Homo sapiens: one gene and its partners. The protein of the gene in region 4 interacts with the protein of the main gene of each other region in a pairwise test. Each region holds a gene or a part of one and is shown on either strand. Other genes may lie near its edges.

Region 1 (3,413 bases), on a different chromosome or scaffold from region 4:
ACCTGAGGCCAGGAGTTTAAGACCAGCCTGGCCAACATGGCAAAACCCTGTCTCTACAAAAAAATTAGACAGGTGTGGTGGGGGCACCTGTAATCCCAGCTACTTAGGGGCTGAGGCAGGAGAATCACTTGAACCCAGGAGGCGGAGGCTGCAGTGAGCCAAGGCCATGCCATCGCACTCCAGCCTGGGCAACAAGAGCAAAACTCCAACTCATGGTGACCATGATAACCATTCAATCCAATGCCTGCAAATGCATACTGCTGCTAAGGAATTTTAATTACATTGCTAAACCAAATACAGTCCTATCACTGTGATATCAGAGTGGGAATTTAAACTTCCTTTGATAAACAACTCTTTTTTTTTTTTTTGAGACGGAATCTCGCACTGTTGCCCAGGCTGGAGTGCAATGGCGCCATCTCGGCTCACTGCAACCTCCGCCTCCCGGGTTCACACGATTCTCCCGCCTCAGCCTCCCAAGTAGTTGGGATTACAGGCACACACCACCACGCTGGCTAATTTTTTCTATTTTTAGTAGAGATGGGGTTTCACTGTGTTAGCCAAGCTGGTCTCAAACTCCTGACCTCGTGATCTGCCCGCCTCGGCCTCCCAAAGTGTTGGGATTACAGGGGTGAGCCACCGTGCCAGGCCGATAAACAACTCTTAGACTTTAACTGTGGTGAGCTGAAAAAAGGCAAATACTAGTAAGCCCTGACACACACTAAAGAATGTATGTCCACTGGGTGTCACAAAGAGGGGAGCAATAGCTCGGTGCCATACACCACCTGGGCACCCTGTGGACCCCATGTGAATGCAGGGGAAAGGCGAATGGAATAAGCCCACTTCTCCTCCTACAAAAGTCCGCCAGGGCCCAGGGACTCTGGTCTGTTGCATTCAATCTCTGCCAACTTGCTGCCACAGCTGGCAAAACCATCAACTTGGAACATCAGCAAGAGCTCTTCTGCCCTCCCACCCAGACTCCCCAGCCAAACTCAGGCTATACCTCTCAGCTTTAAAAATTCCTTCTTCTGTAAAATCTCTGCTTTCTAACACTTTGATGAATTTTACCACTGCATATCCTAAAGTCTTCAGGTTTCCAAACAATGATGCAAATTAACATATCTATCTATATTTTTGTTTTGTTTCTAGAAATGGGGTCTTGTTATATTGCCCAGGCTGGCCTCAAACTCCTGGGCTCCAGCAATCCTCTTGCCTTAGAGGCATGTGCCACGATACTGCCTTCATCTTTAAATTTTTAATTAGTTTAAATAAACGTAGTAGACATTTCTTAAAAGAAAAAATTCCAACAGGACAGGACATCCCTAACATAGTGGACCTTTCTAACTGTATTTCAATAATTCCTGTCTCAGTCCCCAAGCATATTTAAGCCCAGAAGACTCTCATCATAATCAAACCCAGAACAAGGCACCTGTTGTGGGTTGAACTGAATTTGACAAAAAGATATGCTGAAGTTCTAATCTCTGGTAATTTGGAAAGAGGATCTTTGCAGATGTAACTAAGTTAAGATGAGATCATATTATATTAGGGTGGGCCCTGAATCCAATCATTAGTGTCCAAACAAGATGCTGTGAAGACCAATTCGTGGTAGCTTCAAATACAAGTAGAAAACCAAGTAGAAAACCAACACAATACCTGAAATGAGGGATGCCCCCAGACACCAATTCTACCACAATTATTTGGGGATAAGTATGATCCTAGCTTATAAAGTTTTAAGGGCAGTTACCCAGGCCTCTGCAATTCAGTATGGTCAGAGGCGTGGCAGGATTGGTCCTGTGAGTGCAGAAGAACCTTGGGAGGCCTCTGTCTCCACGGGTGTCTTAGTCTGTTTGTGTTGCTCTAAAGGAATACCTGAGGCTGGGTAATTTATGAAGAAAAGAGGTTTGTTTGGCCCACAGGTCTGCAGGCTATACAAGCATGGTGCAGCATCTGCTTCTGGAGAGGGTTTCTGGCTGCTTGCATTCGTGGTGGAAGGCGAAGGGGAGCCACCTGTACAGAAATCATGTGGCCAGAGAGGAAATGAGAGAGGAGGTGCCAGGCTCTTTTCAACAGCCAGTCAGTGAAGAAACAAAGCATGAGAACTCACTCCCATGAGAATGGTACCAAGCCATACACAAGAAACCCGCCCCCATAATCCAAACATCTCCCACCAGGCCCCACCTTCAACACTGGGGATCAAATTTTTTTGCGGGGGTTGGGGGGGTCTGGGGGTACCAAATTTCAACATGAGACCTGCCAGGGGGCAAAGAAACCCTATGCACACCACAGCAGGGGCATCCTTCATTTCCAGTGCGGTGCTGTGCTCTTGGGTAAGGGCACTAACCCCATTTAAAGGGCTCTGCCCTCATGACCTACTCATCTCCCAAATGGCCACACCTCCTAACACCATCATCTCAGGAGTTAGGATTTCAACAAAGACTTTAGGGAGAAACAACTATTCACACCACAGTACTTTTCAACTTCCAAGAAGCCATGCATGCATGGTCTTGGTTTCAGCTAAATCTCCGACCTCACCTCCAACAACTCTTCCCCGTCACTCCTTCAGCTCCAGTCACACAGGCCTCCCATGCTGCTCCTCCAATCCACCAGGTATGTTCCTGCCTGGCCTTTGCCCTTCGCTGTGCTCTCCATGTAGAAGTTCTCTTCCCCAGATATTCACATTACTCATCCCCTCACTTCCTTCAGGGCTTTCTCAAATGTTACCTTATCTGCGAGGCCTTCTTGAGTACATGCTGCCCAATACTCCCTATTCTCCTCACCTTGACTCTTCTCCAGAGCTCTTTCCACCACAGGAAGGAGAAACTGTCTGGCTTCCCTTATGAGACGGAAAGGTCCACAAGGGCAGGACTTTGTTCTGTCACCTGATACGGTCCTACCGTCTAGAAGAATGGCTGGCACATAATAGGAATTTAATGTTTGTTGAATAAAGTGCTTTAGTGTGGGAAATGACGCCTTACTGATGTACACACACTTTTTAGTTTTCCCTCCCAACTTGAATAATCAAGGAACGCCCAACAGAAGAAGCAAAGGCAGAAAATGACCATTTTCCTTCAAGGTGGTTTTCAGCTTTCGGCATTGCCCTCTCACCCCCTGCCCCTGGATATACACAGATTTAAAACTCCAACCTATCACTACAAACAATGTCAAGTATTTGAGGTAATGAATATGTTAACTAGCTTGATTTAATTATTCTACATTATATTCTTTTTATTTTTTTTTGAAACAGGGTCTTGCTCTGTTGCCTAAGGTAGAGTGCAATGGCATGATCTAGGCTCACTGCAAACTCTGCCTCCCAGGTTTAAGCAATTCTCCCATCTCAGCCTCCCGAGTAGCTGAGGATTACAGGTGAGTACCACCACACCCAGCTAATTTTTCTATCTTTAGTAGAGACGGGGTTT
Region 2 (3,630 bases), on a different chromosome or scaffold from region 4:
AAAGAACCTGTGTAGAAGTACAGCAATGGTAGCATCTTCATTCAGCCCACAGCTATGTAATTTGTATGCAAGAGTGCTTGTCTTAAATATGAAAAGGAACATCCTGAATTGCTGAAAGTATATACAACGGGCACACATCCAGAACTAGGAAAGAGCTACCAAGCCTGCATGCTACGAAGACATGGGTCAAAAAATTTTTCTCATGTTTGGTTTCTATAACTAAAGTCTGTGCTAGACTAACCTCAATTGATCCTGAGGAGATGAACTTCTGGAACACACAAAACTGTTAAGAGTCACAGCATTAGACTCTACACTGTCCAGCCAACAGTTTTAAGAAAAATTTTATCCTACTTGTATGAGTGTTCAGGGCTCATATACTACCTCTATGCTCTTACTTGAAACACAGATGCAGACCTTAATAAATAAAGTCTTACATCAGACTCTCTTCTATAATTCACATGTGATTCCTTACACGAGATTCCTGTTCAGATTTCCTGAAAATGAACTATAGGAATAATCTTATCCAATATGATTCTATGTCCCCTAAAAATATCTTTTCCTTTCAGGTCAATCTTATGATTCACTTGCCATTGATCAGATTAACACAACAGGTCTGGTACAGCAAATTACAAAAGAGATTTGACTTTTGATTAATACACTGAATAATGTATCACAAACTATTAAGATCCATTGTCCATGTCAAATGGAGTTCACATATTTAAAATGAATTCACACACTAAAAATTCCCCAAAACAACGTTTCTAAAAAGTTTTTTTTTTTTTCTTTGAGAGGCAGTCTCACTCTGTCGCCAGGCAGTAGCATGATCTTGGCTCACTGCAACCTCCGCCTCCCGTGTTCAAGCGTTTCCCCTGCCTCAGCCTCCTGAGTAGTTGGGACTACAGGCATGCGCCACCACGTCCGGCTAATTTTTTTTTTGTATTTTAGTAGAGATGAGGTTTCACCGTGTTGGCCAGGATGGTCTCGATCTCCTGATCTCGTGATCCGCCCGCCTCGGCTTCCCAAAGTGCTGGGATGACAGGCGTGAGCCATGGCACTTGGCCTCTAAAAAGCTCTTAATCTACATTTTCAAGAATGATCACGTTTGAAAAGCATACTCTTTTAAAACAAAGCAACTATCACTTTCATTTGACAAAAGAAGGAACGAAGGCTTCAAAAGCTAAATAACCTGCTCATGACCATTACGAAGCTAGTTAAAACAACCTCAAGACCAAAAGACAGTGCTCATTCCATTTCAATGACTCTGATGCACTTAAAATTTTATAAATAATTTTTAGGGATATCAGTCATAAGGCTTAGAATCAAATAGTAACGACTCATGTACAAAGACCAGTATTTTTTAAAAATGCTCAGCTGGGCATGGTAGCTCACACCTGTAATCCTAGCACCTTGGGAGGCCAAGCCGCTTGAGACCAGGAGTTTGAAACCAACCTGAACACGGCAAGACCCCATCTCCACAAAAAAATTAAAAAATAAAAAAATTAGCCAGGCATGGTGGCATATGCTAATCCCACCTACTCAGGAGGGTGAGATGGGAGGATCACTCCAGCCTGAGACTGCAATGAGTTATGACAGCACCACTGCACTCCAACTTGGGCAACACAGCGAGACCCTGTCTCTAAACAAATAAACAATAAGTAAAATAAACAAAAAGAAAATGCTAACTTTACTTCACTCTCAGATAGGCCTAATAATTAATAAGCTTCTTTTTGAATTATTATCCATAATGGCATTTACCTGTTATTGATAACTCAGATCAAAGCACTACTAAGCAACATTTTTGATAGCAAATGAAAACAAAAGCTGGCAAAGAAACTGTGTATTAATAAGTCATTTGATTAAAAAAAAGGACTTGGCCAGGTATTGTGGCTCATGCCTGTAATCCCAACACACTGGGAAGCTAAAGTAAAAGCTGAGGAGTTCAAGACCAGCCTGGGCAACACAGTGAGACCCCCATCTCTATAAAACAAAAATTTTTAATATTATCTTTTTACAAAGGACTTATTTATATGGCATCTTCAAGTATTTCAAACATTTCGTGTTTGGATTATGGAATATGTCTCCAGAAGAATTAACACTATTTCTATTTAAGGTAATTTTACATCATTTCCTTTATTAGAAGAAATAACAGATCTGCAGATGGCATTTTGTGAAGGCTGCCTTCTATTAATAGTGTACAAAACACTCATATGTCTCCAAAAAGGTGGGTGAGTAATCACAAAGCAAGTATAACTATTCATCCCAAAAGGTAGGACAGAACATGTGCCAATGTGTGCAGAGTCCTGAACTAGAGACATGGACTCTGGTTCTGGTTCTGACACCTGGGTGACTTTAAGAAAATCATTTTAAAGCTTTGCACTCCAATTTCCTCTTGTATAAAATGACTGGAGCAGCTGACCTCATAGACAATCCTACTCAGGTAGCATCTATCCATGTACTGCCAGAAGACAGAATGATAATCATGCCCCCCAAAATTAGAGTATTTGAAGACAACTGCCGGAGTAAAAATTTTAAATTCTATATACATACACACACACACACACACACACACACACACACACACACACACACACACACAAATACTAATACACTACGTGCCAGATACTGGGGTGGTGGGCTGGGACCAAGGAATGAAGTAATGCATGTGCCAGAGGGTTGAACTTTTTAAAAGGAGTAAAAAAGTAAATCTTTACAGTAGCAGCTGGTGGGTAGGAGGTATTGAGTCCATAGAACTGCTCTTAGATTGGAAGGGCATGGGAAAATGAAGTTCCATTATGTGATAGGGTTTTACACACACACACACACACACACACACACAAATGTGAGAAAGTCACTCAACTATAAGCATTCAAAAAAGACAGACATCTTTCTTGTCTTTGTGGGTCCTGTACTTAGCTCAGCTCATAGAAGCCACAGGAGGAACCTAATAAATGTTAGTTGATCATTTACTGATTTACCAATAACCAATTCATGCCTGCTCTAGTGCTGTGGTCTGAATGTGTCCCCCAAAATTCATGTTGAAAGCCTAACCTCCAAGGTGATAGTATTAAGAGGTGGGGCCTTTGGGAAGCTTTGCCATCATTAATGGAATTAATGCCTCTATAAAAGAGGCCCTATAGAGCCCCGTCTACTCTTCTACTACATGAGGTAATGGTGAAAAGACAGCTAGCTATCTATGAACAAGGGAAGAGGGCCCTCACTAAGATGTCAAATTTGTTGGTACCTTGATCTTGGACTTCTCAGCCCCCAGAACCGTGAGAAATAAACTTCTGTTGTTTATAAGCCATGCTGTCTGTGGTGTTTTGTAATAGCAGCCAGAACAGACTAAGACATCTAGTAACACATTCTCTGGTAAACACTAGGAATTCCTGGCCTTAAAAAGTTCATAGCTAATGAGAAAAGAAATAAACAACATAAAGGATAACATGCTGTAGTCCACTACATACAAGGTGCTTCCAGACCATTCAGAAAAACTGGATAGGAAGATTTCTAAGGTAATACTTATTGAGTGCCTACGTGTTAGGCGTTTTACATACTTTAAGCCTCACAACTCTGGGGAAGTTTCACCAACCCATTTTACAGATGACAAAACTGTGGCTTACCAAGATTAAT
Region 3 (3,630 bases), on a different chromosome or scaffold from region 4:
GGGAATCTTCCACATGAATAGCAGCACAGTAGCACCGACAACTAATAAAGTAACTCACAAAGACAGAACTGGGGCCAAATCAGGCCAAACTGGGCCAAGGAAAAAGAACTTATTTACTGAGCATTTTCTATGTGCTCTACCCAGAAACAGGTGTCAAGAAGAACACAGAAGTGTTAAGAAATGGTCCTTAAAAGGCCCAAGGCACATATCCTTCCTGAGTTTTCTCTAGATACCTAGTTACATTTTTGTTATCTTTTAGGATATTATAGTACATGGTTTGCTCACTGAGGTCTTTTTGAACCATCTCTCTCACCTTTAGATTTAGCATCTCTACTGGGATTATTTTAGGAAGTCAAGCAATAACTCATATAGCACAATGCCTACCATGTGATAAGCACTCAATGAATGTTACATCATGATCATACTTTATTTTGACTGAGGCTTAGTGATGTCTGAGAACACTCAGAAAATAAACATCGGGATGTACAGAAAAATGGAACCTTCTCTTGACTCCAAATCAGAGACACTCTACTCTGCAATAATGCTGATGAACTGTACGATGCACAGCACAGTCTAGAAGAATGTGAAAGCAGGCAGGTATTACATGCAGGGAAGAGTATGCAGAGGGCTTCCTGGGGCAGGACCCTCAACACAGACAGGATTTGGGGCAGGGCTGGGGGAGGGCCTCCAGATCAAGGGAATATTATGAACAAAGCCAGAAATGGGTAGTTCACAGAGATAGCATAAGGCTGCCCAGCTGTGCGTCCACTTACCAAGGGGCAAAAACAGGCATTGCAAGCTGTAGAATAAGCCTCACATGGGCCTTCAGACCTTGATTTATAAATGTTTTCTTTTTTTTTTTTGGTAAAAGTACAGCTTTGCTAGCCGGGCGCGGTGGCTCACGCCTGTAATCCCAACACTTTGGGAGGCCGAGGTGGGCAGATCAGGAGGTCAGGAGTCCGAGACCGGCCTGGCCAACATGGTAAAACCCTGTCTCTACTAAAAATACAAAAATTAGCCAGGCATGGTGGCACACACCTGTAATCCCAGCTACTCAGGAGGCTGAGGCAGGAGAATCGCTTGAACCTGGGAGGCGGAGGTTGCAGTGAGCCGAGATGGAGCCACTGCACTCCAGCCTGTAATCCCAGCTACTTGGGAGGCTGATGTAGGAGGATTTCTTGAGCCTGGGAGACAGAGGTTGCAGTGAGTCGAGATCATGCCACTGCACTCCAGCCTGGCCGACAAAGTAAGACTCTGTCTCAAAAATAAATAAATAAAATACTTTAAATAATAAGAACAGCTTTGCTGTACACCCTTGAGGACCCTGAGAGCCAAAATTTGTCTCTGGCTGCTCAGTTCTCAGGCAGCAGAGAAAAAGGTGCTGGGATGAAAACACTGAGCTATCTAGAGGAGGGAGGGGTGCAGTAAAGGGTCCTGGAGCCTCTAGATGGGTGATGGAAGTAAAGGACCAGGCTGAGGGCACACACACACCAGGCTGAGGGTCCAGGTACCCCAGGACCACAGGCCCCATGCTTCTTACAGGCAAAATGAGGCAAAGACAAGTGCCATCCATGGCCCAGGTTACCAACTGCAGTAACTTCAGCGTGCTTCTTGCCATTTGCACCTACTTATCATGCTGCACAACAGTGATAGGGAACGTGATTAAATCTCATTAACTGTGTTTTACTCAATAATAACTGCATGCTCTGGGAGAGTATAGTCTTGCTTAATTAAACAACAAGTCCTTGTGCTTCTCCGAAAAATACAAAAAGGAGCCAGGCACAGTGGTTCGCACCTATAATCCCAGCATTTAGGGAGGCCGAGGTGGGCAGATCACCTGAGGTCAGCAGTTCGAGACCAGCCTGGCCAACATGGTGAAAGCCCATCTCTACTAGAAATACAAAAATGAGCCAGGCATGGTGGTGGGCAATTTTTTGTAATCTGCTGTCCACGACTTCAAATTTTCTACACTCAAAATAGGTTCTACCGATTTTACTTTGAAGGAAAGCTAACAGGAAGAATACTGAGTTCTCAAGGCGGGCTGAAAGTACCAACTACCATCTGTACAGACCTGGGGGCTGGGGGCAGAGGAGGCTCCTGGGAAGGCTCGGTTAGCATATTCAACCCACAGACTGGGGCCAGGGGAGGCGACCCTGTGGCCTAGCCACTGTCCAAGGGAGTGGCCACACAGTGTGGCATTCAGAGGCCACCTTGCAACTGCAGAAACATAATTTTTTTTCACTTTCTGAAAAGCTACATGTCCAGACTTAGTCTGGCTGGTTTCTATACTTGAATGCTCTTTTCTTTGCAGGAACCATTGGAATCTCTAGAAAATTGAGGGCCAAATCATAAATATAGAACCTTTTTAGACTTCAATGTCTAATATCCACAAGAAGCTACATGTTCCCCACCCCCACAAAAGAGAAAAAAAGATCCTAAAATATTCCACTCTGGGAAATACACTTCAAGAAATAGTAATAGTAATTGTAATCTGTATCAAAATAATACCCAGCCATACTATGATGTTAGGAAAAAAACAACACACAGCCTAAGAACAAAGGGCATGACTGCTCAAACAACAGTCAACAATGGAATCCTGGCACAGCCGGGGCAAGTTGATAAGCTGTGTTCATGCATGGAAAAGCCTACAGAAACTTTTTATTTTTTTAAAAAGGATCCCAAACACCGACTATAACTGTGTGCAAAAGTATACTGATAATGACAAGTGGGAAATTTGGAGAGCTATAAATACTTGTTTTTTGTTGGACTTTTTAGCCAACTGGCTGCTTCTTTTATATGGAGTGACTCAATTCTCTTGGAAAGAAAAAGGGAAGAGGGAGGGGAAGGCAGCGAAGGGAAGGGAAAAAAGAAACCGAGAGACAGGAATTGGACCAAGCAAACCAGCTAAGATCCCGCACTGCATTAACTAACTAGTCAATGGAAGCTCCTGGGTCCTCTTTTCTGTTACAAATTCTAGAAAGGCCAGTCTACCCTCTCTCTTTCCCATTTCCAAAAAACTGGGACCCTCTGTTTATAAAATCTACCTCCACTACTCCATAATTCCAGTACTCCTAGCTGTTCACCTCATCAGCTGCTGATTCTCATTCCAACACCTGAGCTAACAGAAGCAGTAACAAAGTTCCTATCACAGTTACTTCAAGCAAAAGAGGTTCCTTTAGACCAGCTCAGCAGATCCAGAACACTGTCTCAAAGCTTTTGCTCCTGCTAAATTGCTGGCATGAGGCACTACCAGGACTTCTGAGACAACGAAGATGGTAAATCCTCCTCCATGGAGACTAAGTCCAACAAATTTCAGGTCAGGTAACTCAGTGCATTGCTACCAGGTGGGAATATAATCTAAGGACTATATTATAATTCATTTCCCATCTGGTCATACAGAAAGGAACAATAAAGACTTCTTTGCCCTGGAGAAACCTGAACTGAAGGAAGAGAGCAGGTTGCTGAGCTCAGCCAGCACCGAGAGTAAGCAACAGCAGACTGACTCACTCCCTGGAATGAGAACAATTCTGCAGGCTTCTGACTCAATGAAATAGTGACACTTGACAGTGACCAGCTACTACACTGCATGAGATGCCCACAACATGAACTCGGGTTGTTACCCCACAAACA
Region 4 (3,630 bases):
ATGGCTCATGCCTATAATCCCAGTACTTTGCAGGTAGATCATTTGAGGTCAGGAGTTCACGACCAACCTGGCCAATACGGCGAAATCCTGTCTCTACTAAAAATACAAAAATTAGCCAGGCATGGTGGCAGGTGCCAATAATCCCAGCTACTTGGGAGGCTGGGGCAGGAGAATCGCTTGAACTCAGGAGGTAGAGGTTGCAGTCAGCCGAGATTGCACCCCTGCACTCCAGCATGGGCCACAGAGCGAGACTTCATCTCAAAAAAGAAAGAAAAAAAGACCAATAACAGCTAAGACAAACATATTTAAGCATGCGTTCCGTTTATGTTATAAAATTACAAAATTAATCTTGCCAATGTATTCAACAGTATCTTCAAATATGGATTAGCCCAGTTCTTATTATTTAAACCATTCATAAATGCGAAGAGTCTTTGGGCTGAGTCCTCTGACTTAACACAGGACACCTAGATTCCAGTCAAGTGTATTACACTGGTCTTTATAATGTGCTTACAACACAGCAGAAACTGTATCATCTGTGAAGCTAAAATTTAGTATTCAATTCCAAAAGATCTCTGAGAACTCCTGAACTCATGCCATAAAACCACCTTGTGGCCTGCTAATGTTTTGGCCATTAATACCTAAAGCAGGACCAAGAAGAAGGAAGTCTATTTTGTCTATAAAAACACTTGAGTAACTGAGCGAGTAGAAGACAACACCATGCTCAGCTCAGTCTACATTATCACTCCCATTCAACAGGTGGTGAGCCTAATGGCAGGACAAGCATCTACTGCAAGCCACACCCTATGCTACGTTCCCTGGAAAGACGCAAAAGGTCTTGGCCCTTCAAGGCTGTGAAATCCACCATGACAAAAATCTTGTGATTTTTTTTTTTTTTTGAGATGGAGTCTGGCTCTGTTGCCCAGGTGGGAATGCAGTGGCACAATCCCGGCTCAAGGAAACCTCCACCCCCTCAAGTGACTTGAGAAGAATCACCTCAAGTGATTCTTCTGCCTCAGCCTCCTGAGTGGCTGGGACCACAGATACCCACCACGACGCCTAGCTAATTTTTGTATTTTTAGTAGAGACGGGGTTTCACCATGTTTGCCAGGCTGGTCTTGAAGTCCTGACCTCAGGTGATCTGCCCACCTTGGCTTCCCAAAGTGCTGGGATTACAGACATGAGCCAACAAGCCCGGCCGATCTTGTGATTATTTACTATGTCCTAGATTACAATACATGGCCCTTGCCACCACCTCCCCACCGTGTACCTACAGCACAAAAGCTAATTAATCCTCACAGTTTTTCACACTGAGCCCAGACTTGACTCCACTGTCTTGTTCATCAAGACCCTCAAGGCAACCCTTAGCAATCAGGACTGGCATGTGAGATGAGACCTATACGCCATCCCAGTCTCAACACCATGAGATGCTCCAACGTCTACATACGCTAAAATGAGCTTGCAGAAAAGAGGTGGAGAAGGGCTGGGCACACAGCTAATGTCAGGCTTCACTGAAGGAAAGCCAGGACAGAGATAAACGGAGGGAAAAAGAACTCCAGGTTTGCAGCATGACATAAGGAAAATCGCTCAAGTTAAAACACACATGATGTGCTTGGAAATGGGGAGCATGCCTGGAAGAGTGTTCATTTAGAGAAGCAGCAAACCACGGCTAAAGAAGGAATCCGAATGGCATCACAGGAAAAAAACACTAGAGCAGGTAACTGTGGGCCATGCCCTTTTGTCACTTCGTTTCCCTGGACTTCAGCTTCCTTAAGGTAAGTGAATGAGGGAGTTAGATCAGAGCGGGGATGGGAATCCCTGGTGCCTGAGCCGAGGAGCCTTGCTTCCACTCTGAAACCATCTCAGCACATCTGACACAGCCAAACAGGCTGAGATCTAAGGCAGGGCTGCGATTCTCACTGACTAAAGCTATGATGGAGCTGCCTGCAACTGGCAATAAGGAGCTTTCTGCTACTCACCTACCTGCCTAAAATGTCTCTATTCATCATTGGTTAATAAAATAATAGAATACATGGTCTCTCACCCATCTCCTTAAATTCTTCATTGGTCAGTTCCAGCCATGCAGCATCCATGTCATTGAGGTCATAGCGACACACGCTGTCAGCCAGCGTCCGGATGTCCACATAGCCCAACTCGGGAGGCTCAGAGCCTGATGACACGATGTACTTCTTGGGCCTGATGAACATGAGGGATTTCTCTTCAGACACAACCCTGGATAATAAAAAAACAAGGCAGCCAGGTTACCCTTTCAGCCACAGACAATGAAGTGTGCCACAAGGCCCCAAATGTCTTCCTCTTCCAACCCTTAGAGCCCCAGGTCATCACCAGAGGCTGAAAACCTGAATGTCACTGCTAATAAAACCTTAACTAGAAGTTGTTAAAGCCTGCTAACAGGCAATAGATACAAATGAAAACACTGTAGAAGCCTTCAAAATCTGCTTCCCGGGACCCTGCTGTGCCCTGCCCACCACCTCTGACCACTCTGGCCTGCAGCCAACACCAAAACACACTGACCCATACATTTCAAGAGTTAGTCATTAAATCACTTTCCCTTAACCAGACCTGCCCATCCCTGCTGGAGGCCATTAGAACCAGGGCACCACACAGGCAGGGCAGGCGCAGCAGACTCTGAGAACCAGAGGGAGAAACCCGCCAACCCTCACACCTCACAAAAAAAAAGAGGGAGAGAGGGAAAAGAAAATCAGGCCTTGGGCTGGGGCAAGGTGGCCCAAGCCTGTAATCCCAGCACTTTGGGAGGCCGAGGCAGGCGGATCATTTGAGGTCAGGAGTTTGAGACCAGCCTGGCCAACACAGTGAAACCCCATCTCTACTAAAAATACAGAAATTAGCCAGGTATGATGGCACACGCCTGTAACCCCAGCTACTCGGGAGGCTGGGGCAGGAGAATTGCTTGAACCCAGGAGGCGGAGGTTGTAGTGAGCCAAGATTGCACCACTGCACTCCAGCCTGGGCAACAGAGTGAGACTGTCTCAAACGCAAACAAAAAAAAGGAAATAAGACCCCGGCCATTACCAAAAAATCTAAGAAACAGAGTCCCAGCCAAGAAGGGGACTGACTCTCCCAACATATACCCATGATCCCAGGAACAAAAGCACAAGTTTCTCCTCCTGGTACTGCCACACAATCTCTCCCGACCTTTAACACCTGGAGTGGTGCCTTCCAACTCACCCCACTCAAAATAAGACTGCATGTGCAAGAGCAAATCACTCCCGACTTGGAACCAAAAAAAGGCCATCTTCCTAATCACAGACCCCAGGCCTCAACAAAGTCCTTCCACATATGCATTTCCACAGTTTAAATTACTGTCAACAGGCTGCCCAGAGTCTGTCAGAGTACCTTCATCACCCTTATATTACGGGAGTGATTTTATCTACGTGACACTGACATGGACAAACTGAAGGGATTTATTTCTCCTACTCAGCCAAGAGCAGGGATCCAACTTGCTCAGGGCTCCAACTTTAATACAGCTTGTAAAACTTCCACAAGCTGTATTAATGCTCACTTCTGTCCTGGCTCCCCACTGAAAGTGAAGCATTCAGCAAGTGATTCCTGGACTGGGGCTGCCAGTGCTGAATCAGGTGATGCTGCATC

The links.
Region 1: the proteins of JADE1 (region 4) and PFDN1 interact in a two-hybrid assay, tested with the Homo sapiens proteins (one large-scale study listed by BioGRID and IntAct).
Region 2: the proteins of JADE1 (region 4) and UBE3A interact in a two-hybrid assay, tested with the Homo sapiens proteins (3 studies listed by BioGRID and IntAct).
Region 3: the proteins of JADE1 (region 4) and HMOX2 interact in a two-hybrid assay, tested with the Homo sapiens proteins (one large-scale study listed by BioGRID and IntAct).

The regions. Positions count from the first base shown.
Region 1 is NC_000005.10:140,247,719-140,251,131, forward strand, and holds part of PFDN1 (prefoldin subunit 1), read right to left. Parts: intron 1-3,413. UniProt on the Homo sapiens protein: Binds specifically to cytosolic chaperonin (c-CPN) and transfers target proteins to it. Binds to nascent polypeptide chain and promotes folding in an environment in which there are many competing pathways for nonnative proteins.
Region 2 is NC_000015.10:25,432,425-25,436,054, forward strand, and holds part of UBE3A (ubiquitin-protein ligase E3A), read right to left. Parts: intron 1-3,630. UniProt on the Homo sapiens protein: E3 ubiquitin-protein ligase which accepts ubiquitin from an E2 ubiquitin-conjugating enzyme in the form of a thioester and transfers it to its substrates.
Region 3 is NC_000016.10:4,500,368-4,503,997, reverse strand, and holds part of HMOX2 (heme oxygenase 2), read right to left. Parts: intron 1,255-3,630; exon of another isoform or gene 1,039-1,254; intron 1-1,038.
Region 4 is NC_000004.12:128,847,579-128,851,208, reverse strand, and holds part of JADE1 (protein Jade-1), read right to left. Parts: intron 2,230-3,630; coding exon 2,042-2,229; intron 1-2,041.